Linked DNA regions of Homo sapiens. The protein of the gene in region 4 interacts with the protein of the main gene of each other region in a biochemical or structural test. Each region holds a gene or a part of one and is shown on either strand. Other genes may lie near its edges. The genes, in order: CD24, AP1M1, EZR and SELP.

Region 1 (7,235 bases), on a different chromosome or scaffold from region 4:
TTTTGCCAAAAGTGCTAAAAATGTCAAATAATTAACCCCTGTGTCTTCTGTTCCTCTAGAAACAGGATTTACTATTTTATCTTAAAAAGCAAATTAACCTGTTTCCTTAATATTAGTCCATTCAACCAGCAAGGACTGATTGCATGCCAGGTGCAGTGGATATTGGGTAGGCAAGACATAGTCTCTCGGGAGGCTAAGACAGGAGAATGGCTTGAACCAGGGAAGTGAAGGTTGCAATGAGCCACTGCACTCCGTCCTGAGTGACGGAGTGAGGCCCTGTCTACAAAAAAAAAAAAAAAAAAAGAGAAAGTGGTGGTGCAGGATTCAAATCCATATTTGACCCCAGAATCCACTATGTGCTATGCCAGTCTGGTCTCAGGTCTGCCCTTAGAAATTGTAGGCATTTTCCGGGCACGGTGGCTCATGCATGCAATCCCAGCACTTTGGGAGACTGAGGCGGGCGGATCACCTGAGGCCAGGAGTTCGAGACCAGCCTGGTCAACATGGTGAAACCCTGTCTCTACTAAAAAAATATAAAAATTAGCCAGGCATGGTGGCAGGCACCTGTAATCCCAGCTACTTGGGAGGCTGAGGCAGGAGAATCGCTTGAACCTGGGAGGCAGAGGTTGCAGTGAGCCGAGATCGTGCCATTGCACTCCAGCCTGGGAAACAAGAGCAAGACTTCGTCTCCAAAAAAAAAAAAAAAAGAAAAGAAATTGTAAGCATTGCTCCTCCCTCAGTATTCTCAGAAGAGAACCAGCATCAAATGAGGGAGTTTTTCATACTATCTCATGAAAGCTATGAAAACTGAAAGTTATAACTTTCCACACATACATCAATTTATGCAATCAATCTGTTTCAAAATCATTCTATACCACACTTTCTCTATAAAATGGAAATTGGCCATGTGTCTCAACAAAAAGTTCAGGATAACTGGTAAGAGTCTCAATTTGTTAGTGGCGTGAGTTATTATTGGCTAAGGTTTTTTTTTTTTTTTTTGAGACAGAGTCTTGCTCTGTCATCCAGGCTGGAGTGCAGTGGCACGATCTTGGGTCACTGCAACCTCCGCCTTCTGGGTTCAAGCGATTCTCCTGCCTCAGCCTCCCGAGTAGCTGGGACTACAGGCGTGTGCCACCATGCCCAGGTAATTTTTTGTATTTTTAGTAGAGACGGGGTTTCATCATGTTAGCCAGGATGGTCTCGATCTCCTGACCATGTGATCTGCCTGCCTCGGCCTCCCAAAGTGCTGGGATTATAGGCGTGAGCCACTGCACCCAGCCGTGGCTCAGGTTTTATTAGCAAACAAACTATGAAAAACCAGGAGAAGTGGATAAAGAATAGGAAGAAAGAATCACAAGCCAAAAGAACTGCAAAGGAAAAATCAGGCAGTTTTCTTGAGTTTCTAGCTGTACAGGAAAAGGGTAGGGTGGAGACCTGTAAAGAGAAGTATCTTACCTGTGTTGGGCCTCCAGTTGTCAAAGTCCTGGGCAACACCCCCGGTAGGATGCCCAGGGGGAACTCCTGGGCAGAGGTGAAGGGCTTTGCTACGTGAATTATCCAGTCTCATTAGCTGGTGATGAAATGGTTCACAAAGCACAGATTCTGAGTGCCTTGCCAGTTTTGGGAATTATTTGGAGACTGATATTCTTTCACGTATCACACAGTGGCAGAGAAGGTAATTACCTTCTGGTTGCTGGCACCTTCAGTGGAAGAGCAAATATTAAGTGAGAGCTACTACTCTGAGGCAGGCAGTATTCTAACACTTATATATACAATAACTCTTTAATAACTAATTAGTAATGATGTTATTATCTCCATTTTATAGATGAAGGAACTGAGGCTTTTTGTCTCCAGCAAAATTAGCAGAGCCACGGTTTGAACTCTGGCAGTCTGTCTTTAGAGGCTGTCTTATCCTAGGAATACCACCAGTTAGTTCAACAAGCAGCTTGTGGAGGACATAGTATGTTCCTTGCCTTGGAACCCGGCACTCCTGAGTCACAAACAGTCCATTTTTTTCACCCGGAAAAGGAATGGAGAAGCTGGGCCAGACTATTTCTTTTTTCTTTTTTTTTTGAGACAGAGTTTTGCTCTTGTTGCCCAGGCTGGAATGCAATGGCCTGATCTCTGCTCACTGCAACCTCCACCTCTCAGGTTCAAGCTATTCTCCTGCCTCAGCCTCCCAAGTAGCTGGGATTACAGGTATGAGCAACCATGCATGGCTAATTTTGGATTTTTAGTAGAGACTAAATTTTAGTAGAGACTAGATTTTAGGTTTCACCATGTTGGTCAGGTTGGTCTGGAACTCCTGACCTCAGGTGATCAGCCCTCCTCAGCCTCCTAAAGTGCTGGGATTATAGGTGTGAGCCACCACGCCCGGCCAAAGTATTTCTATATAATGTGGTACACTGTTAAACAGGAAAGTCCACTGGTGCTCGACAGAAATTCTTGTGTTCCCAAGCACATCTTAAACGTGCTTGGAAAGTTACTGAGCTAAAGTGACTGACCTTGAAGGCACAAACCAATTCAGTCACTATTCAGTCAACAAACCTACTGCAGATTTCATTGTCACTTTGCTTCCCTGAAACTTACTTTGTTTTAATGAGACTGCCACGCAAAAGTGAAATTTAGACAAATTTAGAATCTTACTACTCTGTGGTTTACTTTAAAGACCGAAAAATGCTTGGGCTAAACCTTAAATAAAAGTATTAAGTCTTGCAATTAAAAATTGAACCAAAAATACTAACGAGAGTGTTCTGCAAAACTGAAATTTAAACAAATTTACAACCATACTAGGTTTGGTCTCTGCTGTTTGCTTTAAAGACTGAAAAACACTTGGGCTAAACCTTCAATAAAAAGATTAAGTCTTGCAATTAAAATTTAAACTCAAAATACTCCACCAGTAAAATTACTTCAACTTTTGTTGTATGCTTGAAAGTTTTCACAATAAGATGGATAGGAAAAAAGTATTCCACCAAAATCTAAAGAGTGATGACGAATCTCCTCTTTGTGCCGGTTCATTAAATTGCCTAATGGCAACTACGGATAAGTAAATGCCTTTATCTCGAACGGTTCTGCTCTTTAAACGAATGACGGGCAACAGAGACCGAAAAAGTGTATCCCCAGGAATTCGAGAGGGACGGTGAATTGTAGTGGGACCGCCAGGAGGGGAGGTTCCTGCCCCCGAGTAGAACCTGGGAGCAGAGCCGCTCGGGGAGGGCGGTGGGGGCTTCAGGGCCGCGGAGGGGGTCCCCTCAGGGTGGGCCGTCTCCTCCTCGCCCGCCGCAGGCAGGAGCGCGGGGGACCGAAACCCTGTAGTTTGCAGCGTCAGGCAGCGGGTCTGCGCCCAGCGAGCGGCTCCCCAGCTCCTGGGAAGATGCGGACCCGGGACGCCCCCGTGAGCTCACTGCGCCTGGCTGACACGAGGCGCTCACAGAACAAAGCAAGGGCTTCGGGGAGGGCGCGGCCGCGGGGCCGAGCGCGCAGATCGCTCCGGACCCGGACACCGCCTGCGAGGAGCGCCGACCAGCCGGGAAGGGTTCGCGCTAGGCGGCGCCCGGGTCCCGTCGGCCAGGGTGAGCGTCCGGCCCGCGTCCGCGCCACGCCCGCCGCGTTCCCCTTTCCTCTGCGGCGGGCCGAGAGATAACCCTGCCCGAGGGGTCCCGGCGCCCGCCCCCCACGCGGTCGCACTGGAATTCGCAGCCCCTCTCGGGTCCCCGGGGCGCATTTTGCAGTCTGAGTGGCAATGCACTTGCTCCAGGACAGGCGGCTACCCCGCCGCAGCGGAGGCGCGGACTTTTCTTTTGGGGGGTAAGATGGCAGGTCCCGGGAAACAAAGGAAACTTGGGCCCGGCCCCCAGCGCGGCGTGTGTGGCTCGCGTGTGTGCCCCGGGTCCTGTGCCGGAGGCGCTGGGCGCCTGTGCCAGCCTGCCCGCAGCCCGCAGCCGGCGCGGGGATACCAGCCGGGTACCAGCAGCCGGCGGCGCCCGCCCACCTGCAGCGGCGCCCGCCCGGGGGGCTCCCGGCCCGCGAGGGCCGGAGCGGCGGTGGCAGTGGCGGCGGCGGCGGGGGCGCTGGGGAACCCGGAGCGGGGCGGGGAAGGCGGGGAGGCGGCGGGCGGCGGCGGAGGGGAGCCGGGGTGGGCGGGCGGCGCCACGTCACGGCTATTGTGGCTTTCCTGGTATATAAGGTCTCGCCGGCTCGCCGCGCTCCCCACCTTGCCTGCGCCCGCCCGGAGCCAGCGGTTCTCCAAGCACCCAGCATCCTGCTAGACGCGCCGCGCACCGACGGAGGGGACATGGGCAGAGCAATGGTGGCCAGGCTCGGGCTGGGGCTGCTGCTGCTGGCACTGCTCCTACCCACGCAGGTGAGGCCCTGGCGCCCGGCGGGGCTCGAGGGCCGTTCCCGGGGTGGGGGCAGGGGAGATGGACCCGGTCCCGGGGGACCGTCCTGCGCTCCTGCCTCGGGCCACGGACAGGGACCGGGAGAGAATCTTGCTTAGCTGACCAGGGGAGAGGGCCATGTGGACCCCATTTTTCCATTCCCTTGCGTGCTGCCCCCCCTCCTCCCACGGCCCTGGGAACAATGCAGCTCCGCGTGCGGGCTGAGAGGACCCTGCCCCACCCCAGGTTCCACGCTGTCCCTTCCCAGGCAGCCAGGTGACTACTTCCCACTTTCACCCAGAGGCCCGAGGTGCCTGCAGGGATTAGCGCCTGGAGAGCTCGGGCTCCCTGGGGACGTTGTCCCTGGGTCCCTGAGGACTCGCTTTCCCCTAGGAATGTCTTCGCGCTCCCCGCGCTCTACACAAAGAGAGGCGACGGTCCCTTTCGGGGAGGGCGGCTCACGCCCATCCTCCACCCTCGGAGTTGGATTGGGTATCCCGGAGAAGCTACGGCTATCTGGCCCTTTTTAAACAAACCCCGGTTCCGGGCTGAAGCCGAGGCGGGGACCCTCTCCTGACGCTGCGCTCTCTGCGAGGCAACCTTTCACGTCCATCGCTTGTCATCTTAGGATCCCCATGTTATTTTAGCCCAGATTGGCTAGTTCTGGGGAGGCAGCATGGTGGGACGATTCTGTCCCGAGTCCCCGCCAGGCTTTGTTCGGGTCGCCGCTACCAGCGCGGTCTCCCTAGATCCTCCATCCGGGGAACCTCGCCCCGGGTGCGGGTACCCGGGGCCGCGCAGCGCTGCCTCGAGGGTGTATGGATGCACCGCGCCGGCGAGAGAGACCGGGGGCTGGGCCTGGGAGACCCTAGCGGGGGCGGGGGCGAAGAAGGTACGTTTGTTTGGGTCAGTTCGGGTTTGGAGGATGGGAGTGACGGCTCTCCAGCGCCTTCGATTGGGGTTAATCGAGGACTGTCACTGGGGCTTCTCCCCCAAAGTTGGGCGCGCTGCGTCCTCCGTCCCCAGACATCGAAAGTCCGGGCTCACCTGGGAGTGCAGCCTGAGTGTGGAACGCGCTTCCCCACCGCTGGCGGGGTAACCGTACCCTATTGTCTTCCTCCCAGTCCGCTGCGCTCCCGAGCCTTCCTCAATTCTTTGATGGGGGAGGGGCGCGGCTGCGAGAAACCGGCCCCCTCCACTCCCCGCCCCATCTTCTCTCCGACCAGATTTTTTTCCTCCAACATTGTAAGTGAGAAGTTTTAATAATGCGAATAAATCTAGCTTGGGAGAGAAAATTTTGTTTAGTGTCAGTTTAATAAACATAATTTTTTTGTTGGTGTAGAGGATCTTTAGATCCTCAGATTGATACACCAGGTTTTAAAAAGAAAACATCACCTGCTGCAGTAAAACTCATTGCATGAATAAAGAACAGGTTACTTTGCGGGATCCCAAACAAGGTGTCCAAAACAGGCACCCTGTTTTAAGTAAATTACCATATTAATGCTTTTCTTTATTGGGAGTGCCGTTTCCTGATGGGACACACTAAATCTTGCACACAGTAGGTGCCCGATAAATAAATTTGACTTGATCAAGATTTTTTTGTTGTTGTCACTAATCTATTTTGGATAGGATTTGTACATTTCTGTAGTCAATATTTGTTTAATGACCTTATGGATTTTACAACAAAAGGAGCTGGTGCTGATGTAGGAGGGCTTTATCTTTGGATTAATAGGCAGCCAAATGTACACGGGGCCCAGACTCTTGCCTGGTGCCACGTCCTCCCTCCAGCCTGTAATCAGAAGCTCTTGTAAACCCTCCCTTGCAGTGAGGGCTGAAAACTCCGATCTGCCTTTGTTCCATGACAAAGGAGAGATTATCACGTGCCCTACTGGACTGTGCATTTCGTGGCTTGAAAAATCAGTGGTGAATGATGCCACTCAGACGCTGGGACACTGGGAGAACCTTGGTTCTTGGCCACAGCAATGAGCTTGGCGACCAGTGAGGCTGCTGCTGGTGAAACTTAACACCATAACCTCTCGTTGTCTTTTGTGAAATCGTTCCGACTTCATGGTGTTTTCTTGAAGTCATTCTGCCTTAAAGGAAAAACTCATTTTCTTTTTCAATTTAACACAAATATTGTGGCCATTTTTTAGAAGAGTTACTATTTCAAATTTCAAGGGAGAAGATAAGACTGCATTTCCCCCTTAAGGAAAAGGCTAAGTTACCAAGGCTGTATTAAATTGAGTATGTGAAAGTTACCTAGCAAATCCAGGATAGACAGTGACCCAATGAATTCTAGTTCCATAAGTCTCAGTTACAATATTTAAAAATCCCCATTTTTTTGTGCAACTTTAAAATCTCCCCCTTTCTGGGAAAATAGACCTTATTGCAATGCCATTAAGTCAATATAATCTTGGAAACTGAATTAGTTAACCTGGTCCTTTTTTCCTTTGCAAAGAAATAAAAACAGGAGTTATAGTTATTGAATAACTTTTTTGTTCTTGTTGCCACTTGGCATTTTTGAGGCATCTCTAGGTAGTTTGTTTTGAAACTAAAGAGAATGACCTTGGTGGGTTGAGCAAGAATTCAGAAGTTAATGATGTTGGGTAAGAGAACAATGGTAAGAGAGCAATCTAAGAATATATCACCTACTTTAATTTTATATGAGAGTACATGGAGGTAGCTGTGATGTGGAAATGTATCCATGTAACTTTTTATGTATTTTAGATTTATTCCAGTGAAACAACAACTGGAACTTCAAGTAACTCCTCCCAGAGTACTTCCAACTCTGGGTTGGCCCCAAATCCAACTAATGCCACCACCAAGGCGGCTGGTGGTGCCCTGCAGTCAACAGCC
Region 2 (7,025 bases), on a different chromosome or scaffold from region 4:
GGCTGTTGGTAGGACTTAGCGGGCAAATGAATGTGTGCAAGCGTTCATTCATTCCTCATCCGTCCGCTCAATGATCTGCCTCCCATTCCTCCCTCCCTCCCCAACCGCCACAGGTGTTTTCCGAGTACTTCAAGGAGCTGGAGGAGGAGAGCATCCGGGACAACTTTGTTATCATCTACGAGCTGCTGGACGAGCTCATGGACTTCGGCTACCCCCAGACCACCGACAGCAAGATCCTGCAGGAGTGAGTGGGCAGGGGTGGGGCCTGGGGCCAGGCCTGGGCGGTGTCATGACATCGACGTCATCAGGTGTGGAAACAGAAGGGGCAAATTTGTGTTCATGTTGTCCCCCACCTGCCTCCCACCTCCAGCAGTATTCGGGTTTTTACTAAGTTGCTCTTAGTGGTTTTAATTCGTTTCCTCCTCTACGCCCCCACATAACCGTGCTTTTCCTGCTCCTCATCTTTACTCTCCATCCACACAGATGCCTTCAGTACCTTGCTACTAAGGAGTCACCTCCCTTGTTTTTACTGTCATAAAATGAGACTGTGATCGAAATCTCCCCTCTTTGGAATCCTGCCCTTCAGATAAGAAGCAATGTGAATTAAGTGCTTCCTGGGGGCCGGGCCCCAGCACTTCACATTCACTCGATTCACAGCCTCCCCGTATACCGTCTCCCCATTTTACAGGGGACAAGCAAGCAGACTCCCAGAGAAGCCTGTGTTCCTAACCGCTGCACCTCCTGCTCCTTCAGCAGGATGGGGTCACCAGGTTACACTCCGAGGCGTCAGTTCCATCCACGTGCTCAGCAGGGACGGGAAGCAGCTCACACCCACTTCTTGTTTTCCTTCCCAACATGGTCTTCTTGGTCCCCCAAAATGAGCACTTCAGCCTCTATAACTTGAGTGTATTGGCTTTTGGAAATTGTGAAGATTTTTCTGTATGAAGCAGCCCCAGGTGAACCAGAGGCTGCCTTTTCTGGAGCTGCTGAAATCCAAGGGCTATTTTCAAGTCGGTCAGAACCTGCCCTGTACCCCCCACCCAACCCTGCCGAAATGTCAAGGCCAGAAGCTGTGGCGTTGGTGCGGGTACCACCTCCTTCACTCTGAGCGTGTGGCCCCACAGGTACATCACTCAGGAAGGCCACAAGCTGGAAACAGGGGCCCCGCGGCCACCAGCCACCGTCACCAACGCGGTGTCCTGGCGGTCCGAAGGCATCAAGTATCGGAAGAATGAGGTGTTCTTGGACGTCATCGAGTCTGTCAACCTCTTGGTAGGCCTCTTTTCTTTCCTTCTTCTGTAGGGTTTTATCTCTTCCACGATAGAAATAAACACAGCATTTTAAAACTGGCAAAGCCCCGAGAGCCGTTCTGTGTGGTAACAGATAGCAGGATTCAGTTTGGGCCACTCATTGAAATGTGAGTTTGTCTTATCTTTTTTTTTTGAGACGGAATCTCATTCTGTCGCCCAGGCTAGAGTGTGGTGACACGATCTCGGCTCACTGCAACCTCCGCCTCCCAGGTTCAGGCGATTCTCCTGCCTCAGCCTCCCGTGTAGCCGGGATTATAGGCACCCGCCACCACGCTCGGCTAAAGCTTGTTTTCTTTATTAGCATTTATGCTGACTGAGAATCCATACATGCACATTATTTTTAAAAATTAGAAGCAGGGTATGAGGTTAGAAAGTGAAGGGCTCTTATCAGTCACCATGCACAGAAAAAAAAAAAAGAAACTAAAGGGCTCCTATAATCAGAAAGATTAGGATTTATTCACCGTCACCCTCTCGGGCCTCATTCTGTAGACAGACAGAAACAAGTATATTGATTTTTCTATAAACCTGAGATCATAAGATGTGGTTCTCCTGCAGCTTGTTTTTTTGGTGGTGGTTGTTGTTTGGGTTTTGATTTTGCGTTCAGTGTTACTGTTTTGTATATTTTTTTCTTTTGGTTTTTTAATTATGAGGAAAGTTGACGTTTTGAAAATGAATTTTAGCGCTTGTACAGATTTGTGTACCCATCACCACACCCAGGACACAGAACCTCAAAACCTCCTCATGTTGCCCCTTTGTAGCTCCATGCTCCCCTCTTCCCCATTTCCTGGCCACCATTGAACTGTTCTCCATCACTGGAGTCTTCATCGTGTTGTGATTGTCACACGAGTGGCATCATATGTCACCGCAGCTGTCTTTCTGAGATTGTCGTATGAATGGCGTCATACAGTCATGAGCTCTCGAGTCTGGCTGCTTTAACTCATTCTAATTCTTTGCGATTCATCCAAATCCAATTGTTTTGCATATCAAAAGTCTGTTCCCTTTTATATTTATTTATATTTATTTTCTGTTCTGAACCACAGAAGGACATTTGGGTGGTTTTCCAATCTTTGGCAATTGTCAATAGAGTTGCTAGAAACATGTCGTGTCCAGGTTTATGTGTGGACATAAGTTTTCATCTCTCTAGGGTAAATACCCAGGAGTGGGATGGCTGGGTCACACGGTAAGTGTATGTTTACCTTTATAAGAAACTGCCAAACCATTGCTGTTTTGCATTCTCGCCAGCAACAGATGAGGGTTGTGATGACCCCACATCCTTTGTCAGTAGTTTTATTTTTGTCATCCTAATAGGTATGTAGTAGTATGTCAGCACAGTTTTGTGTTTTGTTTTTGTTTTTGTTTTTGAGACACAGTCTCGCTCTTGTCGCCCAGGCTGGAGTGCAATGGCACTATCTCCATTCACTGCAACCTCTGCCTCCCAGGCTTAAGCGATTCTCCTGCCTCAGCCTCCCGAGTAGCTGGGATTACAGGCACCCACCACCAGGCCTGGCTCATTTTTGTATTTTTACTAGAGACGGGGTTTCACCATGTTGGCCAGGCTGGTCTCGAACTCCTGACCTCAGATGATCCACCCGCCTCTGCCTCCCAAAGTGCTGGGATTACAGGTGTGAGCTACCACGCCTGGCCTATTCCATTTTCTTAATGGCTAATAATGTTGAGCATTGCTTTACATGTTTCTTTGTCATCTGTATATCCTCTTTGGAGAAATGTCTCTGTGCATCTTTTTAGCATTTTTAAATTGGGTTATTTTCATATAGTTGAGCCTTGATAGTTCTTTGTGTGTTCCAGATAGAAGTCCTCTGTCAGATAGGTGATTTGCAAGTATTTTCCCCCAGTCTGTAGCTTATCTTTTTATTCTCTTAGCAGTGTTTTTTTTTTTTCGACAGAGTCTCACTTTGTAGCCCAGGCTGTAGTACAAGTGGCATGCTTGGCTCAGTGCAACCTCCACCTCCGGGCTTCAAGTGCTTCTCCAGCCTCAGCCTCCCAAGTAGCTGGGATTACAGACGCATGCCACCATGCCCGGCTAATTTTTGTATTTTTAGTCGAGACAGGGTTTCACTATGTTGGTCAGGGTGGTATCGAACTCCTGACCTCAGGTGATCTGCCTTCCTCGGCCTCCCTAAGTGTTGGGATTACAGGCGTCGGCCACCATGCCCAGCCCCCAATACTATATTGAATAGGAGTGGTGAGAGAGGGCATCTTTGTCTTGTGCCAGTTTTCAGGGGGAACGCTTTCAGCTTTTGCCCATTCAGTATGATGTTGGCTATGGATTTGTCATAGATGGCTCTTATTATTTTAGGTATGTTCCTTCAAAACCTAGTTAGTTGGCTGGGCATGGTAGCTCCCGCTCTACTAAAAATAGGAAAATTAGCCGGGCGTGGTGATGCGCGCCTGTAATCCCAGCTACTCGGGTGGCTGAGGTGGGAGGATCACTTGAGCCCCAGAGGTAGAGGTTGCAGTGAGTCCAGATTGTGCCACCGCACTCCAGCCTGGGCGACAGAGCAAGACCCTGTTTCAAAAAAAAACAAAAAACAAAACCAAAAAACTCCAGTTTGTTGAGAGTTTTTAACATGAAGAGATGTTGAATTTTATCAAAAGCCTTTTCTGCACCTATTGAGATGATCATGTAGTTTCTGTCTTTAGTTCTATTTATGTGATGAATCATGTTTATTGATTTGCATGTATTGAACCAACCTTGCATCCCAGGGATAAAAGCCTTCTTGATTGTGGCGGATTAGCTTTTTGATGTACTGCTGGATTCAGTTTACTAGTATTTTGTTGAGGATTTTTGCATCAATGTTCATCAAGGATATTGGCCTGAAGTTTTCTTTTTTTGTTGTATCTCTGCCAGGTTTTGGTATCAGGATGATGCTGGCCTCATAGAATGAGTAGGGGAGGAGTCCCTCCTCCTCCGTTTTTTTGGAATCATTTCAGTAGGAATGGTACCAGCTCTTCTTTGTACGTCTGATAGAATTCAGCTGTGAGTCCGTCTGGTCCAGGTTTTTTTTGGTTGTTAGGCTATTTATTACTGATGCAATTTTGGAGCTCATTATTGGTCTGTTCAGGGATTCAGTTTCTCCCTGGTTCCATCTTGGAAGGGTATATGTGTCCGGGAGATTATCCATTTCTTCTAGATTTTCTAGTTAGTGTGCATAGAAGTGTTAATAATAGTCTCTAAGGGTTATTTGTAGTTCTGTGGGGTCAATGGTAATATCCCCTTTGTCATTTCTAATTGTGTTTATTTGGGTTTTCTCTCTTTTCTTAATAGTCTAGCTAGCAGCCTATCTATCTTATTCATTCTTTTAAAACACCAGCTCCTGGCTTACTTGATGTTTTGAATGGTGTTTTTGTGTCTCAGTCTTCTAGAGTTCAGCTGTGACTTTGGTTATTTCTTGTCTTCTGCTAGCTTTGGAGTTGGAGGCTTTTGCTTCGTGAGTTCTTTTAGTTGTGATGTTAGGTTGTTAATTTGAGATCTTTCTAACTTTTTGATGTGGGCATGTAGTGCTGTAAATTTCTCTTAACACTGCCCTAGCCGTGTCCCAGAGATTCTGGTCTGTTGTATCTTTGTTCTTATTTGTTTCAAATAATTTCTTGACTTCTGCCTTAATTTCATTATTTACCCAAAAGTAATTTGGGAGCAGGTTGTTTAATTTCCATGTAATTGTATGGGTTTGAGTGATTTTCTTAGTTTTGAATTCTATTTTTATTGATTTGTGGTCTGAGAGAGTGGCTGGTATGCTTTTGGTTCTTTTGCATCTGCTGAGGATTATTTTATGTCCAATTGTGTGGTGGTTTTTAGAGTATGTACCATGTACAGATGAGATATATTCTCTCGTTTTTGGGTGGAGAGTTCTGTAGATATCTATCAGGTCCAGTTGATCCAGTGCTGAGTTAAGGTCCTGGATATCTTTGATAATTTTCTGCCCCAGTGATCTGTCTAATACTGTCAGTGGGGTGTTGAAATCTCCCACTGTTATTGTGTGGGAGTCTAAGTCTCTTTGTAGGTCTCTAAGAACTTGCTTTATGAATCTGAGTGCTGCTGTTGGCTGCATATTTATTTAGGTTAGTTAGATCTTGTTGAATTGAATACCTTACCATTATGCAATGCACTTCTTTGTCTTTTTTTGATCTTTGTTGGCTTAAAGTCTGTTTTGTCTGAAATTAAGATTGCAACTCTGCTTTTGTCTGTTTTCTATTTGCTTGGTAGATTTTTCTCCATTTCTTCATTTTGAGTCTGTGGGTGTTATTGCATCTGAGATGGGTCTTTTTTTTTTCTTTTGAGACAGAGTCTTGCTGTGTTGCCCAGGCTGGAGTGCAGTGGCGCAATCTCGGCTCACTGCAACCTCTGTCCCCCAGGTTCAAGCAATTCTCCTGCCTCAGCCTCCCAAATAGTTGGGATTACAGGCACGCGCCACCACGCCTGGCGGTTTTCTATTTTTAGTAGAGACGAGGTTTCACCATGTTGGCCAGGCTGGTCTCGAACTCCTGACCTCAAGTGATCCACTCGCCTCGGCCTCCCAAAGTGCTGGGATATTACAGGCATGAGCCACTGCACCCAGCCAAGAATGGTGTCTTAAAGGGAGCATATCATTTGGTCTTATTTCTTTATCCAGCTCTTGCCACTCTATGCCTTTTAATTGGGGCATTTAGCCCATTTACATTCAAGGTTAGTATTGATATGCATGTATTTGATCCTGTCATTGTGTTGTTAGCTGTTTATTATGCTGACTTGTTTGTGTGGTTGCTTTATAGTGTTACTTGTCTGTGTACTTAAATGTGTTTTTGTAGTGGCTAGTAATGGCCTTTTCTTTCCTTTTTCTTTTTTTTTTTTTTGAGACAAAGTCTCACTGGGTAGCCCAGGCTGGAGTGCCATGGCGTGATCTTGGCTCACTGCAACCTCTGCCTCCCAGGTTCAAGTGATTCTCCTGCCTCAGCCTCCCGAGTAGCTGGGACTACAGGCGTATGCCACCATGCCCAGCTAATTTTTTTTTGGTATTTTTAGTAGAGACAGAGTTTCACCATGTTAGCCAGGATGGTCTCGATCTCCTGACCTGACCTCGTGATCCACCTGCCTTGGCCTCCCAAAGTGCTGGGATTACAGGCGTGAGCCACTGCACCCGGCCTTTTTTTTTTTTTGAGATGGAGTCTTGCCCTGTCACCCAGGCTGGAGTGCAATGGCATGATCTCTGCTCACTGCAACCTCTGCCTCCCTGGCTCAAGCAATTCTCCTGCCTTAGCCTCCCGAGTAGCTGGGATTACAGGTACCCACCACCATGACCGGCTAATTTTTGTATTTTTAGTAGATATGGAGTTACACCATGTTGGCCAGACTGGTGTCGAACTCCACACCTCAGGTGATTCGCCTGCCTCAGCCTCCCAAAGTGCTGGGATTACAGGCATGAGCCACCACACCCGGCCTTCTTTTCATATTTAGTACTTCTTTCAGGAGCTCTTGTACAGCAGGTCTGCTGGTAAACAAATTCCCTCAGCATTTGCTTGTCTGAAAGGATCTTTTTTATTCTTCTTTTTTTTTGAGACAGGGTCTCATTCTGTTGCTCAGGCTGGAGTGCAGTGGCATGATCATGGCTCACTGCAACCTCTACCTCCCTGGCACAAGCTATTCTCTGGCCTCAGCCTACCAATTGGCTGGGACTATAGGCAGGTACCACCACACCCGGCTAATGTATATGTTTTTGG
Region 3 (7,025 bases), on a different chromosome or scaffold from region 4:
TGTGAGCCACCACGCTCAGCTTGCAGCCTTCCCCCATCCCTTTTGGGTGAGTGGGAAGAGGGGGAAGAACAGGTCAGTCCTGGGCATTTAATAAACAGACTTCTAGAGCTTTAGGGAGCCTCTGGCCTCCCTGCACCCTTCAGATGAAGAAACAGGCCCAGATCAGGAGTTAATTTGGAATTTTAGGATTTACTTTAAGCAAATGCTCTGTATACCTGAGTTGTCATTTCTAATGTATTCAACCCTCTTTGGCATTAAATATGATAGAAGCCATGTATTTGAAGGATGGTAGCATTTTTTAAAGTTTAACATTATATATCATGGGATTTTAAATTAGACATCTATGTATATGTAAATAGTCGAACTTGTCTGGGACTCGGTTTAGATGATGTTCAACAAATGTCCACAGCAAGTTCGACTATCACTGCTTTTCTGTTTACAAGACAGTCGTGAGACTAAGCAGCTCAGGACTCCTGTAATGCACAACAGAGGCTTGAAAATGTGAAATCTTTGCTGTGACCTAGGGTCGGGATTCTACCTTTGCTGTATCAGAATGTCCCATTTCTGGAGGTCTATAAGATGCAGGTTCCTCTGGGCACCCCTGTGCATTGACACCCTTCCGTCCCAGAAGTCTGCCTTGCCTGTTTTCCTGCCTTTCCTAGGATTTCTTTGTCCCTGTTCCTAGTAAGTCAGACCCCTGGGCCAGCTGGCTGAGAGGCAGAGGCAGGCAGCCAGAGGAGGCTCAGGTGTGGCACTGGATGCTTTAGTCTTCTGCATGAGCACACCTGACCGGCAGCGATGCACCCACCGCACTGTTCCCTGGGGGGCTGTGGGCTCCCATGGTTCTGTGTGTGCTGGCCATAACCCGCCCTGCTGAGTTTCATGCAGGAGAGCATCCTGGAGTACAAAGGAGTAGGAGTGAGATTTTCTAAGATTTGAAGGTAGAACCCTGAATCTGCTCAAATTTATATTAAAAATAAGTCGTTCATGGCTTTGAGATAATAGCCTCAGTTAGTAACAAGTTATTTGAGTGCAAAAAAAGATGTTGCCCAGTGGTTGGACTGAGCAGATGTCCTGGTTTCCTGGGGACTCTGCTAGACCATGTGATGAACGACAGCCAAAAGCTGTTGCCCTTTTGAGTGAGTTTCTCATGAGTGTTGAGCCTCTCTCTCTCTCACGCAGGTGGTAAAGACTATCGGCCTCCGGGAAGTGTGGTACTTTGGCCTCCACTATGTGGATAATAAAGGATTTCCTACCTGGCTGAAGCTGGATAAGAAGGCAAGTCAGGATTAACTATTTACAGGCTGTGGATTGGGTGTTGGTCTGCTTCATCGATAAGGAAACTGGAGCAACTCACCCTGTCTTTTGTTTTCTGTTCCTTTTTGTTTGTGTAAAAGTTTTTACAGACAAAAAGGTTGCAGGTTTCCAGTAAATGGAGATATCGATTGGAAATCAGATCTGGCATTTCTCCATAGTGCTCACTCATTGGAGCATATGATGGTTAATTGCATAGCTTTTAGTTGACCTTAGTTTTTTCAATGAGATTGTTAATCTTATAAACTGTGAATCATCCACCATCTTGTAAGAACCTGTTATTGCTTTGTTTGAACCTGTGACAGATTATCTTCCAACTTTAAAGAGTGGATAATTCCATTAACCAACCAAAAAGAAAAGTAGTAAGATAAACATTTTCTTCAAACTCTGAAAATTATCCTTTTTTTTTTTTTTGAAACCCCCACTGTCCTCCCAAGTCACAGCAACAAGTTAAAAAGATGATGGGAGGTGGGGAAGAGTGGAGGAGCAGGAGGAATTCTTAACAGTAAGTTTCGGGGTCCAGGGCCCGATTGGCATGTGGCCCCATTCCAGGTCACTGGGGTCATTTCCAAATTTGAGTTCTCCAGGATTGATAGCATCATCCCATGAGGACTGGGGCTTAGTGAGGCAGTAGCTTTGATTTCCAGCTGAGCACAAGAGTGTGATAGTACTTGTTTGTTTTTTGTTGTTGTTGTTTTGAGATGGAGTCTTGCTCTGTCGCCCAGGCTGGGGTGCAGTGGCACGATCTTGGCTCACTGCAACCTCCACCTCCTGGGTTCAAGTGATTCTCCTGCCTCAGCCTCCCAAGTAGCTGGGACTACAGCTGCATGCCATCATGCCCGGCTAATTTTTTTGTATTTTTAGTAGAGATGGGGTTTCACCATGTTGGTCAGGCTAGTCTCGAACTCCTGACCTCGTGGTCCGCCCACCTCAGCCTCCCAAAGTGCTGGGATTACAGTCGTGAGCCACCATGCCTGGCCTGTTTTTTTGTTTTTGTTTGTTTGTTGTTGTTTTTTAAGAAGAGACAGGGTCTTGCTCTGTCACCCAGGCTGGAGTGCAGTGGCGCCATCATAGCTCACTGCAGTCTCGAACTCCTGAGCTCCAGGGTTCCTCCTGCTCAGCTTCTTGAGTAACTGGGACTATAAGCATGCATCACCATCCCCAGCTAACTTTTTTTTAAAAAATGTTGTAGAGATGGGATCTCTTCTACGTTGCCCAGGCTGGTCTTAAACTCCTGGGCTCAAGTGATCCTCCTGCCTTGGCCTCCCAAAGCACTGGGATTATAGGCATGAGCCACCATGTCTGGCCTGTGGTAGCACTTTTGACTAACCTTTTTTTGTCTGGAGTGCTAAAAAGATGACTTTAAGAATAAATATCTCCTGAAAACTGGCTTGAGGGCCCCATTGAGTCTTGGTTAGAAGCCTGTGTTGGGGACAGTGGGCCTTCGTCTTCCGGATTTGTGTGGAGAGTGTGGCTTGTTTCGTGCAGGTGTCTGCCCAGGAGGTCAGGAAGGAGAATCCCCTCCAGTTCAAGTTCCGGGCCAAGTTCTACCCTGAAGATGTGGCTGAGGAGCTCATCCAGGACATCACCCAGAAACTTTTCTTCCTCCAAGTGAAGGAAGGAATCCTTAGCGATGAGATCTACTGCCCCCCTGAGACTGCCGTGCTCTTGGGGTCCTACGCTGTGCAGGCCAAGTTTGGGGACTACAACAAAGAAGTGCACAAGTCTGGGTACCTCAGCTCTGAGCGGCTGATCCCTCAAAGGTGAGCACAGGATGACCCGGCCTGGGCAGGAGCAGTCATGCCGTCCTCGGCAGGGAGAAGTGATTGCCTTAGAAGCACAGTTTAAAAACACAAGGACTTCGCCAGTGTCAAGTGCTCCTTCATGCTAGTCATTAAGTCACTGACCAGCGACCTGAAACATAGCCAGGGAAGGCGAGCTGCCATTCCTCATGGAAACTAAAGCGTGGCCGTGTCCTGTGGGACATGGCATAGCAAACTTCTCGACCTGACTGCTCAGCTCCTCCTGGGGTATGATAGGTTGCCCCTGTGAAATCTGTTTTTATTTAGTAATGGTCACAAAAATTACCCCATTTGGAAGAAGAGGCCACTTAAAATACCTCTTAGTTTTTCCAGCAGAACTGAGTTCTTGTTCAAAATGCTAAGTCTTCCAGATTAACTGTCATAAATAGAAATGCTGCACATCAGGAAATAGAAACCAAAGCTCTTTGGGATTGATTGATTTGAATGGAAAGTAAGGGTTTGAATGTGGGTGGTAAGTGGGCCTCCTTCCTTGCCTGTCACATTCCTTAAGGATGACAGTGCTGTTTCCTTTTGCATTCCAGAGTGATGGACCAGCACAAACTTACCAGGGACCAGTGGGAGGACCGGATCCAGGTGTGGCATGCGGAACACCGTGGGATGCTCAAGTGAGTGCTGTGCCCTGCTGTTGGGATCTTGCCATCTCCGTGCGCTCCAGCATGTCTTTTCCTGTGACTCTAGTTAGTGCTTTAAAGGGCTCTGTGTCAGGCCTTGTGAAGACCTTGAGGGAACCGAGTTAAAAGTGGGGTTTTCTTAGGGAAGAGGTTTTTTTTAAACAAAGCCAGGTGTCTTGCCTGGGGAAAGAAGCAGTTTAGCTCAAGCCTTCAGGTTCTAAAAGCTTACACCCTCCCTTTGTAGAAAGTGTTGTGTCTAAACTTCATCTTAGTCAGAGGGGCATTGTTCACCTGCAATCAGCATTATTCTGTCAAAGAGATGCTGGTTTGCTCATTATATGAAGGTACTTGTCTTACAAAGTGTATATAAATGAAAAAGGATCCCAAGTGAGAAATGCTGATGTCAGAGAACCTGGACGTGGGGCTGTTAATGTAAGACATGGCCGAGCCACCTGATTCTGGGTGTTCTCGTCCTAGAGCCTTGTCTCTGGCCTAGTCTTGCGAGTCTGCATTATTTCAGCCTCTGAAGTTTGTTTGAGGTTTGAGCCTCAGATTTTGTGCTTCAGGGTTTCCTGTCTGGCCCAAACATCCTTTATGGAAGGAAAACAACTCAAAGCCTATGAGGAGGGTTGTGGGAAGACATGTGTGGGCAAGAGAAAAAGGAGGATTGTGCTGAGTGATAAAACTTAAAAACCTGTTAGAGAAACCAGTGTGAATCAGTTCTTCTTCAAAGTGTGGGGTTTGGTGGTGAGGCTCCAGGGCAGCACGGACCCCACCCCAGGCATAGCTTCTGGGCTGTATGGGTCCCCTCCTCACCGGTCGGCTGCCCGGCCCCTGCCTGCCTGCACGCAGCACACAGCATTGAGCCCATCCTACACAAGGCGCCTTAATTTAAAAATACTGGAAAGGTTTTACTGTTCTAGATATTGAGTGCTACCAGTGACTCTGCCTGTTTCACTCTCCCCAATTAGAGATAATGCTATGTTGGAATACCTGAAGATTGCTCAGGACCTGGAAATGTATGGAATCAACTATTTCGAGATAAAAAACAAGAAAGGAACAGACCTTTGGCTTGGAGTTGATGCCCTTGGACTGAATATTTATGAGAAAGATGATAAGTGAGTTGAAGTTCACAGTTATCTTCAGTAGGTAGGGTGGTGGGCCTGGAAACAATGGCAAAATGGCAAATTTGTGGGTTATTTTTGAAGTATTTATTTAGCAACTTACTATCCCAAAGTAGGAAACTTTTTAAAGGGCTTTTGGACTGCTGTGGCCCTCTCAAAGGGTGGTCCAGAGGTGTGGGTTATCCTCTCTCATGGTGGGCGGGGCCGATAGTGGGCTCAGTCCTGGTAGAGGAAGGCAGAATAGAGCAGAGGCTGCCTCTCCTCCCCGCTGCCTCTGAGATTCCACCCCAGCTGCCTGCAGGTACCAGCACATCCATCCATAGCTACTTCGCAGGCAGCCCAGCCAGTGCTCGACTCCTGGCTCGAGGTTTGTGCTAATCCAACCAAGAATATTGATGGTGTGATGAGAGACTTGAAAAGCTGTAAACAATAGCCTGTACGTGTAGACACTTGAGCTAAATGCTGGGAGTCTGCAGGAGATATCTTAATTGCCTCGCATTAGTTACGTTGTTTGTTGAGTGAGGGCCTGTAAGCAAGCTGGGTAGAGCAGCAGAGCCAGGCCTCTCCACAGGGACAGGCAGTTCCGCTTTCACATACAGGGCATTTGCCTTCTTTCTGCTGAGGATAAACAGGGAAAGTCATCCTAGTTCATGAGGGCAAGTTTCCCATGGTGAGTCTGCGACATCAGCATAATCCTAGATTCTGGATTGATCTGATCAGAAGCTACCTGAATTTAAGAGGCAGAAGGAAACTACCTCTGGAAAGAGAAGGGAGAGGCTCCTGACTGCCTCCTGACTACCGTCTCTGCCCTGATTGTCCACAGTCAGCCTGATTGCTCTGCAGGGCTCCCCGAAACAAATCATCTGATGGCCACCAGGTTCAGGGGCCTGGCAGAGAAGGTGCCAGGGCAAGAATGCTCCTGGGGTCTTTTTGCCAAGCCCTGCCTTTTGGCCTGGGTTCCTGCTTTCCACGTAAAGAGCAGAGTGGCCCAGAGTTCCTGGATGTACCGGTTTCCTTCCCAGCCTCATGCTGTTCCTTGAAATGACAGCTCTCCCCATTTCCCACTTGAGGCTCACCCATCTCATCTGTTCTCAGATATTTTTGTTCTCAGCATCCCCACATCTCAGGTTCCCCCAAAACCCTCTCTGGAGTTCTCAAAGGGAGTGGTGCTGCTTTCCACAAATGACCTGCATGAGTCCATCTCCATTTGCAACCACGCGGATTCCTGCCAGACCCCAGGGCACAGATCTATTTCACTTGGGCAAGTCAGGGACCTGTGCCAGCTGTGCCCAACCTCCTCTCACCTCCGGGGCCCACGTGGTGATACTGCACAGGGAGGGAGGCAGGCGCTGTCACAGGAGCTCCTCAGAGAACCTGGAAATGAGATATTGAGGACTCTCGGTTCGCTCCTACTCCAAGTGTGCTGGATGCAGCATTGGTAAAGAAGCACGGAAAAGCCAGGCACAGCGGCTCACACCTGGAATCCCAGCACTCTGGGAGGCCGAGGCAGGCGAATCCCTTGAGCTCAGGAGTCTTGCCCAGCCTGGGGAACATGGCGAAACCCCGTCTCTACCAAAATTTAAAAAATTAGCTGGCTATGGTGGTGCACGCCTGTGGTCTCAGTCAGGTGGCTGAGGTGGGAGGATCACTTGAGCCTGGGAGGCAGAGGTTGTAGTAAGCCAAGATTGCGCCACTGCACTCTAGCCTGGGTGACAGAGCGAGACCGTGTCTCAAAAAAAATTTTAAAGAAGTGGGGAAAGTGGGTACTTGGAACCAGGACACCATCTTTCCGGGAGACCCTAGAGCTGAAGCCGTGGCTATTAAGACAGCCATGCCAAGGAGCAGTGCACAAAGTCCTCGTGGGAACGTATGTGGGAAACTGCCTCTGCCTTGGAAATCTCTTCAATGACCAGATTTTGTAACGTGGCCAGGCCAGGGCTGTCCAAACAGGTTTTTCAACCTGCAGGAAAACAGCCATGGGCAGGAACTTGCTGATGTCAGCTTGTAACTGCCCCAGCCCACGTAAGTGTCCATTTCTTCCAAGTAAAAACGTGAGCTGTGTGCCCTATTTAGTGCTGTTTTTGCGCTCTGCTCCCCCTCCCCCACCATTGAGCGATGAACGTGGCAACTCTCTCAGATGGTTCTTTCCCCAC
Region 4 (7,025 bases):
TGGGAGGTCGAGGCAGGAGAATCGCTTGAACCCGGGAGGCGGAGGTTGCAGTGAGCGGAGATCACACCACTGCACTCTATCCGGGGCGACAGTGCAAGACTCCGTCTCAAAAAAACAACAAAAAATGTTTTTGGGCATCTAAGTTCTAGTGATGCTCATCTTGTCCGACTTCCTCATGTTGCACATGAAAATACTGAAGCTTGGGGCATCTAAATAACACGTTCAGAATGACAGTAGCAGAGCTTGACTTTGAAACAAGAAAGAGCTCTTTCCACTGTACTTTTTTTTTTTTTTTTTTTTAACCTTCATTAACCTCCAGGCTTCTAAATCCCATGCTGCATTGCTGTTTTGGATGATAAAGCATGCGACATGACCAAGCCTAGCTGCTACATCAGTTCCCCTCTAAAGCCACTCAACATTACTATCAACATAAAAACAGTGCATTTGCTATGCATTTGCAGTTTTGTCACTATCCCAGCCAGACTGCTACCTAAAACCTTTCCTGTAAAGAAATCTCAAATTGCCTCAGACCACAATTTGGTCTGTGACAATTTGCTGCGAGGTTATGTGTGTGTTCGTGTGTCATGCCCCAGTGATGGATGATGTAGCGTGCATGGGACGGTGTGCGGTTGTGTGTATGTTCGTGTGTCATGCCCCAGTGATGGATGATGTAGGGTGCATGGGACGGTGTGGGGTTGTGTGTGTGTGTGTGTGTGTGTGTGTGTGTGTATGTGTCATGCCACAGTGATGGATGATGTAGGCTGCATGGGACTGTGTGGAGTTGTGTATGTATGCGTGTGTCATGCCCCAGTGATGGATGATGTAGGGTGCATGGGACAGTGTGGGGTTCTGTGTGTGTGTGTGTGTGTGTGTGTGTGTGTCATGCCACAGTGATGGATAATGTAGGGTGGATGGGACAGTGTGGGGTTCTGTGTGTATGTGTGTGTCATGCCACAGTGACGGATGATGTAGGGTGCATGGGATGGTGTGGAGTTGTGTGTGTGTGTGTGTGTGTGTGTGTCACACCCCAGTGATGAGATGTAGGGTGCATGGGACTGTGTGGGGTTGTGTGTGTGTTCGTGTGTCATGCCCCAGTGATGGATGATGTAGGGTGCATGGGATGGTGTGGAGTTGTGTGTGTGTGTGTTTGTGTCACACCCCAGTGATGGATGATGTAGGGTGCATGGGACTGTGTGGTGTTGTGTGTGTGTTCATGTATCATGTCCTGGTGATGGATGATGTAGGGTGCATGGGACAGTGTGGGATTGTGTGTATGTGTGTGTCACACCCAGTGATGGATGATGTAGGGTGCATGGGACAGTGTGAGGTTGTGTGTGTGTGTGTGTGTGTGTGTGTGTGTGTGTCACGCCCAGTGATGGATTATGTAGGGTGCATGGGACAGTGTGGGGTTGTGTATGTGTCACGCCCAGTAGGGTGCATGGGACAGTGTGGGGTCATGTGTGTGCATGTGTTCATGCACTTTTGACTACAGCCTGACCAGATACCAGGGAGAACTCAACTCAAACCAGTTAATGTGTCCCAGAGAGTAGAGTTATCTCATAAGCCTAGAACTTTTCATCTGGGAGCTTCTGAATCTTGACTTTGGTAAGTAGGCATATTTTGTGTTCTTATAAGCTGCTGATCTCTGCAGGACCTATGATTAAACACTGAGAGTATCATAACGTTATGATTTACAGCTGTTTATTTGCACAAAATGCAGAGTGATCGATAACCCTTTGGTGCGAACCTAACCCCACTGCTTTCTCTGAATTGTGTTGTGTCACAAGCTGTTCTTCCTATCACATTTCAAAATGCACCATTCCAAATGCTGAAGTGGAATTCTTCAAACCAGGATAAGGCTGACTTCCCAAGGGGTTCACAAGCAAAGAGAGTGTTAATTAAATCTGTATTCAGATTCTCAACTTTCACATATATACTTTCTTAAAAACAATCTGCCTAAAATACACCTTTCTCCCACTTTATAAGAGAAAAATTATACCTTTTACTAATTTCTTATTTATTCCAGAGCTTTGCCTTTGGATATAAATACATTCGTATGCCAGAGATGATTCGAAATATTGGTATAGGTATTAAGAATTTGAATATTGTAAATGATATTGCAGCAAATCCGTTTTCAAGTCTAGTGATTTCCATTTATTTCCTTTCATCAGCTTTGAGGGAGCACCCGATTAAGTTGTCAAGTCTGACTAAATTTTGATAGTAAATCACTATATAATTTGGGGCATATAACTTGGAAGGACTTCAAGGAATTGAGACATTGCTATAATAAAACTTCTAATTCCATTTACTTATTCATATGAATGAAGTTTCTCAATGTTTAAATCCTTGAAAATGAAATATGGGAATAATATTGATGCCAAACTTGTCTAATTTTGTTGATAAGTAATATTCATTCATGGATATATGAACAAATGAGGGAAAGCTCCTCCTGTCTTAGAGATGAATCTTTAATAGCAATTTAAATATAAAGGTTTAAGTTACTTGTCAAAACTTGCAGTATATTTACTTTATTTAATTGTGTACTGAAAGTAGTTGTCATGCTAACTCAATAGAAAAGAAAAACATTTTAACACATAGAGACTTACAGTTGTAGAAAATTGAAATTTTATATTTTTATTTTGCAAAGAAGTATAATAATCAAGAAAATACTTTAAGCTTAAAATGTGTAATCTTAGGCTAAATACTGTAGAAGTGGGATAGAAATAACTATTCAAGGAGAGAAAAATGAATAATATAAAATTTCTTAAGAGCCTGCTTGTGGTCTTTTAAGTGATGAGGATTGCAGATCATGCTAGTACTTTATTCCATTGGATAAACTTTAAGAAATTATGTAACAATTTTATTTTTACAGTCTAATTTTTGTAATACACTGGAAAATCCAATCTTCTTTTGCTTTTAAAATTTGGGATAAAAAATTGTAGCTTTCCACTTAGAAAGGTGTAAGAGGTAACATAGTGTTCCAGGATATTTTTGGAGGTATAGGAGCAAAAATATTGCTGCTGAAGAGCACAACTCTGCAGCCTTCATGAAGGGGACCTGAGTGCTTGCCTTTGAACCTGGGCTTTGCTCTATTCAGACAGATTGCAGAAGGAGTGCAACGATTTTAAATTTAGTGGTACTCTTCCTGTGGAAGTGGTTTTCTCCCTGAACAGAGTATTTCTAGGGATTTCCCTGGCTTTGGGGCCAGCTCACAAGAGTGTGTAGGGCGAAGGAGTCGGTGAGGCTCCCAGTCTCCCATCACAGTGGCCAACCCTACCCACTGTTTCCTGCTTTGACTTGTTTGTTTAAACTTTTAAATAAGATTTGGTTTAAACAAAATTTCCAAAAAGAGATGTTTCCCATTTTAACCTGTTTGTTTGTTTGTTTGAACTTTTTTTAAGCAAAATTTCATCAGCAAATTCTCTACCACACAAGATAAAACAAAGTGAGAGAGAGCGAGACAACTTGTTTTAAACATTTGAAGGTTTTAGAGGACTGGTACAGTGCTTTTGATGAAGGCACAACATCTAAGAAAGGAAAATGCAAGTCAGTGTGCATCCCCTGCTTTAATCTGACATACTTTTCTGTTTCTATGCATCACCAAATACCAAGATTCACCTCTTACAGGTTATTTCAGAGCTATAGGAGAACATAAAGGTCACTTCCAAGCCAACTTAGCATTTATCTGCTGTTCTGCAGGAAGTCTTTCAGACTTCGAATGCCTAAGATGGGGCAGCCACCACTCCCCACCACTGAGACTCAGTGAGCGTAAATGATTTGCCCAAGCTTGCTCACATGAATGTGCATAGGGTTAACACAGTTATTCTTATTCTTCCAGGGCTTATGAATTTTGAAAATCTGATAAAAGCCGTGGTCAGATTTCTTCAAAACAAATGCATGCTTGCAGTAGTTTAGAGAATCTCAGATGGTTCATGACCTACTAAGTCTGTCCATGTTTAATGTGGCCCAAGTTCAAGATTCTGTGTTAACTGTAAGGCAACTGATAGGGATTTTGTGTGGAGGTATGGAGAATGGATGATGTTTAAAAATCTTCTTTGAGTAACAGTTTTCCTCTGAAACCTGCTTGGGGTGGGCAGGCCTTCTCATACCTGCTCCTACTCTGCATTATAGTCTGCAGGATGCTGCTCTGTCCTGTGTTACTAAGCAAGTTAAATACTAAAACAAGAGGAAATTCCTCTCTAGAAGCATCCACATGCTCTGCTAGTCTTTAATGTTCTCTGGAAGGCTGGTTCAACTGGAAGTTGCTGGAAAGGAGTCAGAGACTGGGTCATTAGAATAACATCCTGTGCCTGTGTAAGCCTTCATTAAGTACCATGATTATCTTTAATTTTACTTTAATAAAGAACTGGGCTGGTGCAGTGGCTCATGCCTCTAATCCCAGCACTTTGGGAGGCCAAGGTGGGCAGATCACTTGAGGTCAGGAGTTCGAGAACAGCCTGGCAACATGGTAAAACCTCGTCTCTACTAAAAATGCAAAAATTAGCCAGGCATAGTGGCACATGTCTGTAGTCCCAGCTACTTGGGAGGCTGAGGCAGGAGAATCGCTTGAACCCAGAAGGCAGAGGTGGCAGTGAGCCGAGACACTCCAGCCTTGGCAACAGAGTGAGACTCTTTCTCAAAAAACAAAACAAACAAACAAGCAAAAAAACTAATAATGATTGCAGGGTGAAGAGAAAAGCAGAGAGAAAGTGGAAGAAGCAAATGCCTTGACCTAACTTTTCACACAAGGAGGTACCAGAGGCTAGTAGGTGTCCCATGGCTTGCCACGTTCCAGGTGGCTTACAAAGTTGGCAAGAATAGTGCCACAGAAAGGAGATCTTGTTCTTTTTGTCTACATTGTAGACCACAGCTTTGTGCTTTTAGAAAGGCGGAATCAAACAATGTCCCTCCCTTGACCCTTTGTCCTCCTGCCCACATCTGCCTGTTTCTCTCCTTCCTCTTATAGCTAAACTTTCTTAACTTCCTTGCCTCCCCCTTACTCTCCAGCCCACTGCCCGACCATCCTATCAAAGTGTCCCTGCAAACTTCATTGCTGACATCCTCATTACCAAACCAAATGAAGACTTTCCACCCTTATCTTCCTTGACCTTTCTGTAGCAGTAAATACCACTACTTCCTTTTGCCTAAAATGCTTCCCTTAGCTCTTCTGTTGTTCTTCTGCTCTAATGTTTGAGAAACTTTTCTGAGTCTTCTTCTGAATCTACCTCAATCCTCTGCCTTCCCTTGCAGAGGTAAGTGTTTCTCTAGGTTCCCACCTCCATGGCCCTATTCTCTTCTCATTCTTCTGCTTTCCTGGGAAGTAAAGATGACCTCCTTATGGTCATCTGTTTCCAATGTCCTCTAATCAGCATCTCCGTTTCTGAATATTCTCTTGAGCAGGAGGTCCACAATTTAAATGCGCAACAAACATGTGAGCATACAGCTGAGGAAGCTACTGACAGAGGCTTCTCAAGGGCAAGGACTATTACTTACTCAGGTCTGAATCCCCAGCCATGGTAGGGCACATACTCAATACTCAATAAACATTTTATGGATAAATATATGAATGAATAATGGCAGAGGAATAACTGAAAGTAAGACAAAAATATGCTAAATAAGAAAATGTTGGAAAAATACATAATAATTATAACTGAATGCATTACTTTTACAGTAGTGATAATAGCTAAGTGAACAAATAAAATGGTGAAAACAGACATAATTCCAGTCCTCATAGAATGCACATTCTATTGGTAGAGAAGACAATGAAACAAATACTAATAACTACACAACAGTACTAAACAAGTAAACATGAAAAATATTAACAGAATATAGCCATAAGTGCTAGGTAGGAAATGAAACTTATGTGATAGAATGACTGTGTCACTATGTTGGTCAGGAACGTCAGGGAAGACCTCTTTAATGAGATAATGTTTAAGTGGAGAGAAGAATGACTGCAAGAAACCAGCCAGTGAGAAGCAGGAAGAAGAGCATTAAAGGAAGAAGAAAAAGCTATTTCAAAGGCCTTAAGGTGGAAGCAAACTGCAGTGTGTTCAAAGAACATGAAGACATTAGTGTGGCCAGAATGGAATGAGCAATGGAGAGAAAAATACGAGCCGGGGGTAGTGACAGATCACATCGGGCTTTGGGATCCAAAACAAGGGGATGAGATTTTATTCTAAGTGCAATGATAAGCCAACGGAAGCTGGGCACGGTGGCTCACATCTGTAATCCCAACACTTTATGAGGCCAAGGCAGGCAGATCCCTTGAGGTCAGAAGTTCAAGACCAGCCTTGCCAACATGGCGAAACCAACTCCACTAAAAAATACAAAAATTAGCTGGGCATGGTGGCGCATGCCTGTAATCCCAGCTACTCAGAAGGCTGAGACAGGAGAATCGCTTGAACCCAGGAGACAGAGGTTGCAGTGAGCTGAGATGGCACTACTGCACTCCAGCCTGCTGAAGATTGGGAGATCCTAGAGGTTAACTGAAAAGGTAGTTTGAGACCATATCTTGTGGGTCACAAATACCAGTTGGCAGAAGGGATACTTCTGAACAGAGAAGTATCATGAACACATGCACTTAATGGTGGTATGATTTTTTTTGTGGGGCTGGGGGACAGGGTCTTGCTCTGTTGCCCAGGCTGAAGTGCAGTGGCATGATCTGGGTTCACTGAAACCTCCACCTCCTGGCCTCAAGTGATCTTCCCATCTCAGCCTCCTGAGTAACTGGGACTACAGGCATGCATCACCACACCCGGCTAATTTTTTGTAGAGATAAGTTCTCACTATATTGCCCAGGCTGGCCTGGAGCCCCTGGGCTCAAGCAATACTTTTTCTTTGGCCTCCAAAAATGCTGATATTATAGGGGTGAGAGTAGTGCGATACTTTTTTTTTTTTAAATGAGTTACAATCAGGGAGATTGCACTGCAAAAGAAGAGGCTATTGCAATGGTCCCAGTGAGAGTTAAAGAGGGACAGGTTTGGTCTGGCATCAGTGGGAATGCAAATAGGGGAGGTGAATATGAG

The links.
Region 1: the proteins of SELP (region 4) and CD24 form a complex in vitro, tested with the Homo sapiens proteins (2 studies listed by BioGRID and IntAct).
Region 2: the proteins of SELP (region 4) and AP1M1 are reported together in a solved structure, tested with the Homo sapiens proteins (one study listed by BioGRID).
Region 3: the proteins of SELP (region 4) and EZR form a complex in vitro, tested with the Homo sapiens proteins (one study listed by BioGRID).

Annotation. Positions count from the first base shown.
Region 1 is NC_000006.12:106,971,706-106,978,940, reverse strand, and holds the start of CD24 (signal transducer CD24 isoform a preproprotein), read left to right. Parts: upstream 1-4,211; 5' UTR 4,212-4,294; coding exon 4,295-4,363; intron 4,364-4,901; exon of another isoform or gene 4,902-5,055; coding exon of another isoform or gene 5,056-5,271; intron 5,272-7,106; coding exon 7,107-7,235.
Region 2 is NC_000019.10:16,207,906-16,214,930, forward strand, and holds part of AP1M1 (AP-1 complex subunit mu-1), read left to right. Parts: intron 1-113; coding exon 114-244; intron 245-1,124; coding exon 1,125-1,272; intron 1,273-2,454; coding exon of another isoform or gene 2,455-2,490; intron 2,491-7,025. UniProt on the Homo sapiens protein: Subunit of clathrin-associated adaptor protein complex 1 that plays a role in protein sorting in the trans-Golgi network (TGN) and endosomes.
Region 3 is NC_000006.12:158,781,361-158,788,385, reverse strand, and holds part of EZR (ezrin), read left to right. Parts: intron 1-1,182; coding exon 1,183-1,278; intron 1,279-2,802; coding exon 2,803-3,077; intron 3,078-3,658; coding exon 3,659-3,742; intron 3,743-4,719; coding exon 4,720-4,866; intron 4,867-7,025. UniProt on the Homo sapiens protein: Probably involved in connections of major cytoskeletal structures to the plasma membrane. In epithelial cells, required for the formation of microvilli and membrane ruffles on the apical pole. Along with PLEKHG6, required for normal macropinocytosis.
Region 4 is NC_000001.11:169,620,100-169,627,124, forward strand, and holds part of SELP (P-selectin precursor), read right to left. Parts: intron 1-7,025. UniProt on the Homo sapiens protein: Ca(2+)-dependent receptor for myeloid cells that binds to carbohydrates on neutrophils and monocytes. Mediates the interaction of activated endothelial cells or platelets with leukocytes. The ligand recognized is sialyl-Lewis X.